Regions from separate parts of the Homo sapiens genome. Here region 2 is linked to region 1. Evidence: fine-mapped QTL for protein levels in blood plasma. Region 1 holds a variant in brackets. A gene starts in the other region. All regions are shown on their reverse strands.

What was found. A credible set is the group of variants that fine-mapping cannot tell apart. PIP is the chance, under the fine-mapping model, that this variant and not a neighbour inherited with it causes the effect. Protein levels are from antibody-based Olink assays in UK Biobank. Linkage for the fine-mapping came from a reference panel and not from the study's own genotypes, which makes the PIPs less certain.
Region 2: SEMA4C starts here. The variant in region 1 is the best candidate, but not a certain one, in a credible set for the plasma level of the SEMA4C protein (UK Biobank, PIP 0.51).

What each region holds. Positions count from the first base shown.
Region 1 is chr11:89,465,604-89,469,986 of GRCh38, reverse strand. All of the region lies in intron 2 of NOX4 (NADPH oxidase 4), which reads left to right. Among named protein-coding and RNA genes, the nearest start is that of NOX4, 24 kb to the left of the region's middle. The variant G/A (reference allele first, on the strand shown) is at 2,282.
Region 2 is chr2:96,868,221-96,872,603 of GRCh38, reverse strand. SEMA4C (semaphorin 4C) reads left to right here and starts at 2,524. Exons shown (of 15, transcript NM_017789.5): 1 at 2,524-2,728. LOC124908044 (collagen alpha-1(I) chain-like) reads right to left here and starts at 4,230. Exons shown (of 3, transcript XM_047446878.1): 1 at 4,186-4,230; 2 at 3,855-4,019; 3 at 1,481-3,576. The coding sequence starts at 4,230. The coding sequence ends at 2,569. RefSeq lists silencers at 2,202-2,491, 2,532-2,631, 2,662-2,731, 2,752-2,851, 3,172-3,331 and 1 more.

The DNA.
Region 1 (4,383 bases):
TTATGTGACTTCAAATTGTCCTCTAAATCAATGAGTGCTGATCCTGGCTCAGAACTCCACCCGAGACCTAAGGAATAACAACTTCAGAAGTTTGGTAGTAGAAAGTGGTTTATTTTAAAATAGCCCATCAGGTAATAACTATGTACAGTCCAATATGAGAAGCCTTTGTCAAGATTTACATAAAATGAGAGGAAAATTTGTTGATTGGGTAACAGTATAAGCAACTGAAAGAGTAAGAAAGTGTAAAAATACGGAAAGAGCATTAGGCAAGGTGTCCGAATTTGCAACTCTGTTCTGGGGAGTGATGCATTGCAAGGGAAGTGACACAGACCATGAAGAGGAGACTTGGGTTCCCATTCTTGCAGCTTTATGAACTAGCAGTGTAAACAGGGCAAAAAGAAGGTTGAACTGGATGGTTTGTAAGGCGCCATGAAAGAACTACAGATTTTTTATTCTAAAGCACTAAAGAATTAGGCTTTGTATGGGCATCATTTGGTTTGATTAAAATTTTCCTTGGGATAGAAGAGTCAATAAAATTGATCACAATGAGCACAAATTTACATATTTTTAGACAAACACCAATGCCAAATCAGAATTTTAAAATATTTTATCACTTTAAGTTTTCGTTATTTTTAATTTTGTTTTCCTAATTGTTGACTCACCAAGAAGCACCCAGAAAAATGACCAATTATTCAAACTAACCTCTCTGGCTTTTTCAACTCCCTTTGAACAATAGTTTAGTGTACATATTTACATGTAGAATATCATCTTATGTTCCCTTAATTTGTTGAGAAAATTTCCAGTTGAGAACAAAATGTTCATTTGAAAGTTAATTTGCCAAAACAGGTAGTTTGTAAGTCCTCTCTAGAGTCAGCTATTTCATAGGATTTGGTACATTTTAATAGCTTTGCCAAAAATTTGGATGAAGATGTGAAAAACATAAATGTAAAGCTTTCAGGCCTTGTGTGGTGGCTCACTCCTGTAATACTAGCACTTTGGGAGGCTGAGGCTGGAGGATCACTTGAGGCCAGGAGTTTAAGATCAGCCTAGGCAAAATAGACAAAAATAAAAGTAATTAGACAGGTGTGGTAGCATGCACCTGTAGTCCCAGCTACTCTAGAGGCTGAGGTGGGAGAATCAGCTAAGCCCAGGAGCTCCAGGCTGCAGTGAGCTGTGATTACACCATTGGACTCCAGCCTGAGTGACAGAATGAGACTGTCTCTAAAAATAAACAAATAAATGAAAATCAAAATTTCTAGCTGAGGCAAAGATGAGAGGGAAAAATATAAGAATACAGAATTCACAACCAATATAATAGAATAGGTTAATTCTTGCATTTATGTACCTTCTCTCACCCGCTCCCATTTTTTTCTTTTGAGTATAGGATAAAGGGATCATTGTTTAATAGGAAATTCATGTGAAGAAAACCTATATGTTGGAAACTCAAGATGAGCCTTTATGTGACATAATTTCCATAAAAGATAACACAATCTTAAAATTAGCAGATAGCATCCGTAGTAACAGAGACGATAGTCTTCAGCACTGCTCTGGGCAATGACCTTTTGTCAAGAATGTACTGAATATTGGTGCACAAAGATGATGGAGTCTTAAAATTATATCAACAATTGTAGAAGCAACTAATTGTATTTAGCATGGAGAAAGCAAGATTGATTTAGGAAATTATACCACTTTTATCTTCAGTTTTTGAATGTCTGTCTTAGGAAAATTATTATGCAGAGTAGCTCTGTGGGTGGAAGTTACAGAGACACAGATTTCATCCTAGTGTAAGAAAACAAAATAGAACAGTGGAACAGCCTGTTATGTGGAAGAATTCAAACAGAGTGTAGGTTACCTTTGGTTGGGGACTGTCAGAGAAGGGGTTTAGACAGTGGGTGGGAGGTACAGTATGAGCTAGGCCCTTTCAGATTTCCAGTTTTAGAATTATATGTTTTAGTATTTAGCAAAATAAATTTACTGATAAGTAAAATATTTAGTCACAACAGAATCCCTCCTATATGTAACACACATAATTAACTTGAAATGTAGTCCTTGTCACTAACAAAATTTTACTGATGCGATGATTAACTATACAAAGTAATGTAATTGCCAAAATTACTTCCTTAACATCTGTTGTCCACACTTCATTGAGAATAATCATCGCCAAATACTAATCTCTTCATGCCACTTCCTGGCTTAAAACACAATCATTCTGTGCTATGGACTGAATATTTGTGTCCCCCCAAAATTCATATGTTGAAATCCTCACCCTTAAGGCAATAGT[G/A]TTGGGAAGTGGAGCCTTTGGGTGACTTGGTGATTAGGTGATGAAGGTAAAGCCCTCATGACTGGCATTAGTGCCTTTATGAAAGAGGCTTCAGAGCACTAGTTAGTGACCATGTGAGGATGCTAGCAGAAGGCACTGTCTATGAGGAAGTGGGCCCTAACCAGACACTGAATCTGCCTTGACCTTGAACTTGTAGACTCCGGAATGGAGAGAAATAAATGTTTGTTGTTTATAAGCCACACAGTTTATGGTATTTTCTTAAAGCATCCAGAGCAGACTGAGAGAGATGCTCTGCACTAATAAAATAAAATAAAAAGATAAAGACAAATTTTTTTTTTTTTTTTTTTTTTTTTTTTGTGACGAGTTTGGCTCTGTCGCCCAGGCTGGAGTGCAATGGTGCGATCTGGCCTCACTGCAAGCTCCACCTCCCGGGTTCACACCATTCTCCTGCCTCAGCCTCCCTAGTAGCTGGGACTACAGGCGCCCGCCACTAGGCCCAGCTAATTTTTTTGTATTTTTTTAGTAGAGATGGGGTTTCACTGTGTTAGCCAGCATGGTCTCGATCTCCTGATCTCGTGATCCGCCTGCCTTGGCCTCCCAAAGTGCTGGGATTACAGGTGTGAGCCACCGTGCCCGGCCGATAAAGACATTCTTAATGTAACCTACAAAGTCCAGCGAGCTCCCCCCAATTAGCTTCTCCAGCTTTATGTTCCATTACCCTTCATTTCCAAATGAAACATATTGGCCTACTATTTATTTATTACATATACACCATGTTTTCATTTGCTACACATCATTTCTCATGCTGCTTTTTTCCCTGCATGGATGTCCCTCTTATTTCTAGCTGACTTCTAGTTTTATTCTTCAGATCTCAGTTTCCTTTATACTTTTCATTAATCAAGGAAGGCTTGCTGATCTTCCCATTTAGATCTGATTTCCTGTTACATGTATTCATACTCTGTTTCTCATTTATCACTGTTACAAATTGTATTTGCTTATCAAGTTATTTGATTAATGTATTTCCTCTACTAAAACATAAGCAGCCTAAGGGAAAGGGAATTTTATGTTTTTAGTTCACTATTGAACTCCTAGTGTCCCAAAATATGTGCCGATTACAATAAATATGTGTTCGATTAATAATATAAGTGGAACAGATAGCACTTACTTTAAAAGTACAGACCAATGTTTAGTGAAAGGATGTGATCCAGTGACCCTATGGCAATAAGTTAACTCTATATACTGCCTGCATTTTTTAGACTGTGTTTACTTTTCACAAAAGCCCTAACAGCTAGGATTATTATGTTATATTTGTTTTATAGGTAAGGAAATTGTATCCCTCTCAATTAACTATTTCAAAATTAATATTTATTAAGTAGGATATTTAAGATAAGAAACTGTTTGAGATTTTAAGAAAATAACCATGTGCTTGGTATACCTAGATATTATGTTCTTCAATAACTTACTTTAAATGGCATTTAAAATATTTTTCTATAGGATTGTCTTGGTTCAGGCTGGTATAACTAAATATCATAGACTAGGCAGCTTAAACAACAAACATTTTTCTGTTGCTTGGGAAGTGCAAGACTACAGTGTCAATAGATTTAGGGTTTGATGAGGGCCCTCTTCCTTGTTGACAGATGGCTGCCTTTTTGCTGTATCCTAACCTGGTGAGAGAAGGAGAGGAGGTATTCTGGTGTCCTCCTCTTCTTATAAAGGCATTAATCCTTTTGCTGTGCAGAAGTTCTTTAGTTTAATCAGATCCCATCAGAGTGAACAGGCAACCTACAGAATGGGAGAAAATTTTTGCAGTCTATCCATCTGACAAAGGGCTAATATCCAGAATCTACAAAGAACTTAAACAAATTTACAAGAAAAAAAAAACCCCATCATAAAGTGAGCAAAGGATATGAACAGACACTTCTTAAAAGAAGACATTTATGCAGCCAACAGACACATGAAAAAATGCTCATCATTGCTGGTCATCACAGAAATGCAAATCAAAACCACAATGAGATACCATCTCACACCAGTTAGAATGTCAATCATTAAAAAGTCAGGAAACAACAGATGCTGGAGAAGATGTGGAGAAATAGAATGCTTTT
Region 2 (4,383 bases), not on the chromosome of region 1:
TTTTTAATTATCTCCATGACTTGGGGCTAGTTGTTTAATCTTTTTGACTCATCTCCAAAAGGGGAGCAACAATACTTATTTTTTTAATTTTGTCGAGGCAGGGTCTCGCTCTACAGGCTGGAGTGCAATGGCACAATCACAGCTCACTGCAGCCTCAACCTCCTGGGCTCAAGCGACCCTCCCACTCCAGCCTCCTGAGTAGCTGGGACTTACAGATGCATGCCACCACGCCCCCGCTAGTTTGGTTTGTTTGTTTGTTTGTTTGTTTGTTTTTGAGACAGAGTCTCCTTCTGTTGCCCAGGCTTGAGTGCAGTGGAGTGATCTTGGCTCACTACAAGCTCTGCCTCCTGGGTTCACGCCATTCTCCTGTCTCAGCCTCCCGAGTAGCTGGGACTACAGGCGCCCGCCACCACGCCTGGCTAATTTTTCTGTATTTTTAGTAAAGACAGGGTTTCACCATGTTAGCCAGGATGATCTGGATCTCCTGATCTCGTGATCCGCCTGCCTCAGCCTCCCAAAGTGCTGGGATTACAGGCGTGAGCCACCCCTCCCCGCCACGCCCCGCTAGTTTTTTTTTTTTTTTAATTTGGGGCTGGGCGTAGTGGCTAATCCCAGCACTTTGGGAGGCCTAAGCAGGTGGACCACCTGAGGTCAGGAGTTCGAGCCCAGCCTGACCAAAACGGCGAAGTCCCATCTCTACTAAAAATACAAAAATTAGCTGGGCATGGTGGCGCATGCCTGGTCAACATGGTGAAACCCCGTCTCTACTAAAAATACAAAAATTAGCCAGGTCTGGTGGCAGGCACCTGTAATTCCAGCTACTTGGGAGGCTGAAGCAGGAGAATCACTTGAACCCAGGAGGTGGAGGTTGCAGTGAGCCGAGATCGCGCTATTGCACTCCCGCCTGGGTGACAGAGTGAGACTCTGTCTCAAAAAAAAAATAATAATAATAATTTCTTTTGTAGAGACAGGGTCTCAGTATGTTGCCCTGGCTGGTCTTGAACTCCTGGGGTCAAGTGATCCTCCCATCTCAGCCTCCCAAATTACTTACTTTTTAAAGGGTGGTCATAAGGGTGAAGTAAGAAAATGTACATCAAGACAAGCTGCAAAAATCTAAAGCACAGAACACAAGTGAGGGCACTTGCATCTCAGTTTACCCTCCGCTTGAATAGATACGGGGAATAAACTAAACACGAGGGTGACACACCTTCTCCCACCTTGTCAGCTGAAGCAGGAGGCCTTCCCTGCCCACCCCATGGTCATTATCTCCAGCATCTCCAAGGCCACAGCTTTTTTTCTTTTTCCTAGTGGAAAAGAGCTGGGAAACGTGGCTTTGGCCAGCAAGGGAGAAGGGGCCATTATGTGTACCAGCAAAGACCCGATTGTTACTGAAACCAAACTGGGCTGCTTTTCTCAATTATCTCCACCACTTTTCTGGTCTCCACTTTTCAGATGCCAAGTTTTAACCCAGAACAAAAGCTGCTGTCGGACTGATTTATAATCCAGATCTGCTGACGCAGCCTGAAGTGTTCCTCCCCTCCAGGACTGCACCCTGGCTTAAAGTTACCTCCAAACCTCAGGACGTCAAGCCCCTTCACCTCTGCCTTTTGCCCCTAGCCAGGAGGTAGCATCTGTCTCCAGGTGCCCGTGGGGTGTCCTCCATGAGGACCACCTCTTCTAACCACCTGCCCAGCTCAGAGGACCAGCTGGCAGGAAAGACGCTGCACCGCCCATGAGGCCAGAGCTACAAGTTGCTTCTAGGAGTGGCTGTGGGCGGAGGCTGGTGGTTCTGAAGGTGGCGGTGGTTCTGCAGCGTGGCTCCCCACAGCCCCTTTCATCTGAACAGTAGGGCTCATGCCACTTGTTAATCAGCCTTCCAGTGGCACGAGGAGTCATTTTCTGGGGATAGGCGCTTTGCCCAAAGCGTGAGAAGCAGGAGCAGGCCCTTTCTGTTGATTGAAGGGTCTTCCTGGCTGGTGAAGCCCTTTCCAGACTTGAGGGCAGGGACCAGTGGTCCTCGGGGCCTAGAAAGAGGCAGAATTGGGGGCCAAACGGCAGACCCCTCTGGTCCGCCCCAAAAGACGCCTCGGTTCCCCCAGCGTGCCTCCCCTGGATACTCGCCTCGACGTGGCTCGCCCGCGGTCGTTCCTGCAACTGCACGGTCGGGAGTCCCTCTCCCCAGCCCAGCCCGCCCGGAGTCTTCGGGGGACACTTCAGAAAGATCGGGTGAGTGTGATTCCCCCGTGGCCATACCCGGAGTCCCTCCCCCGCCCCACCTCCCTCCAGGCGCTGTGGCGCAGCCCGCGACTCCGAGCCCCGGGGCTGCTGGACACCCGGAGGGGTTGAGGTCCGGGCACCCAGAGAGGCGGAGGTCCGAGCCCCCGGGCGGAGAGCGGGCGGGTCCACAGGTCGCTGCGGGTCGCAGCCCCCTCCTGAGCGAGCCTTCGCGGCCCGCCCCCGGCCTCCGCTCGACCCCCCCAGCCTGACGTCAAGGGGAAGGGGGCGGAGAGCCGCGGCCGCGCTGGAGAAAGAGCCGGCGCCCGCCGTGGTGGCGCGGGGAGCCCGAGCCTAGGGGCGCGGAGCCGGGCGGGGACGGAGGGGCGGTGGCAGAGAGGCCGCGGAGGGCTGGCGGGCGAGCGCGGGCAGGCGGCGACGCGGGGGCAGGGGTGGACGGCGGTCAGAGCCGAACGCGAGGGCGGCGCCCGGGGACTGGAGCTGCGCGCAATAGGTGAGCGAGGCCGGGCTTGCGTGAGGCTGGAGCCGCGGGGCCCCGGAGCCGCCGCTTTGTCCCTTTGCTTGGGCAGGGGCTGCCGGACGCGGGAGGGACAGGGGCTGGGGCGCGGGGAGCCGCGGCGGCGGAGACGGCTGTACGCGGGGATCCTTCCTGCGACCCCCGCGGCTGCTTCGCAGGGTCTCGGGAGTGGGGCGCACAGCACCTGCAGCCCCGCAGCCCCGGGGCCGGAGGGGCGCGCCAGCGAGGGTTCCTCGCGCGGTCCGGTCCGCGGCCGGGATCCTCGCCAGGCTCCTGGACTGCCCTCGGCGCTCCCACCCCCGATGGAAAGTTTGGGGCGGGCTTGGAGGGAGGCCGATGTTGTGGGATCGGATTTCCCTGCCGCGGCCCCCCGCCCGCCCGCCCATTCCGCTGGGGAGGCGGGTTGTCCCGGAAAGCCAGGCCCCCGGGCCGAGCCGGGCCGCGCCGTCCCCGGCTGGAGCGCTCGCCCTGCAGGGAGGGCCGCGGTCCACGGCTGGCCGCTCGGGGTGGGCGAGGGTGTGGGGTGCCCCGCCTGGATCCCGCACCCCTCCCCCCAACCCCTCCTCCCGGCTGCCCGTTTCCTCGCCCTGGGGGGAGCTGCGGGTGGGAGCACCGCTGCCGGGCGGATCCTCGGAGCACGCCACGGGGTGCGGCCCGATCCTCGGGTAAGGAGCCGAGATGAGGCCGCGGGCGTTTTGGGGGGCTGGTCTGGGGCGCAGCCCCCGCTCTCCCGCGCCGGGGCTCTGGGCCGACAGGGGGCGTCCGCAGGCCGGGCTCGCCACGCTCCCCGCGCCGCCGCTTTGTTTGCGTTCAAATCCCTGGAGCTGGGGGAGGGGAGAACCCGGGGGGACCCGGGACGGGGTCTTGGCGGGGACCCTTTGTTTGGGGGTGAGCAGGTCCCCAGCTTCTGCGTCTCCGCCCCTGGCACGGGAAGGCTGGAGCAGGGGAAGCCAATCCCGCTGGCCCGCCCAGGCCAGGGTCCCTGGGGCGCAGTCCCCGAGTTGGGAAGGTTCGTCAGAGTCGCGGGAGCGCAGCGGGTGCCGGCCGTGCGCGGCGCGTTGCCAGCGGCCCGGGAGGAACCCCCTCGCGTCCCCGCCCCTACCTCCCCCCGTCGCCTGCGCGCGCCGCCGGAGTCCCCGACTCGACCCGAGCTCGGTCCCCCCACCGCCCCTCCGCCAGAGGGCTGGTGTTTCGGAGGAGGCAGTGCGAGGAACAGGATGAGGCCCTGGTCATTTCCACGCCCATCCCACCCACTTCCTGCCTCCCTCTTGGGCAACAAAGGGGCCTCGGGAAGCTGGGCCCCTTCGCTCCCGGCCCTTCTCACACTCCTGCCCTGCTGATGTGGAACGGGGTTTGGGGTTCTGCAGGGCTATTGTCTGCGCTGGGGAAGGGGACAGGCCGGGACCGGGACCTCCGCTCGCAGCCGGCCGCACCAGGTTTCCCCTTTGGGGCTTTCCCGACCGCCTACCCCACCGCATGCCCTCGTCGCCCTAAGGAGTCTTCCTCCCAGAATTAGGTGTTGGCAGGGTCCGGAGCCCCAGTGGCTGCAAGGCCTGCTGCCTGAGGTTCTTTCAAGAAACTCAAACCTCTTAGGCCTGAGTGTGTATGTTGGGCGGGGGTCCCCTTTTTAT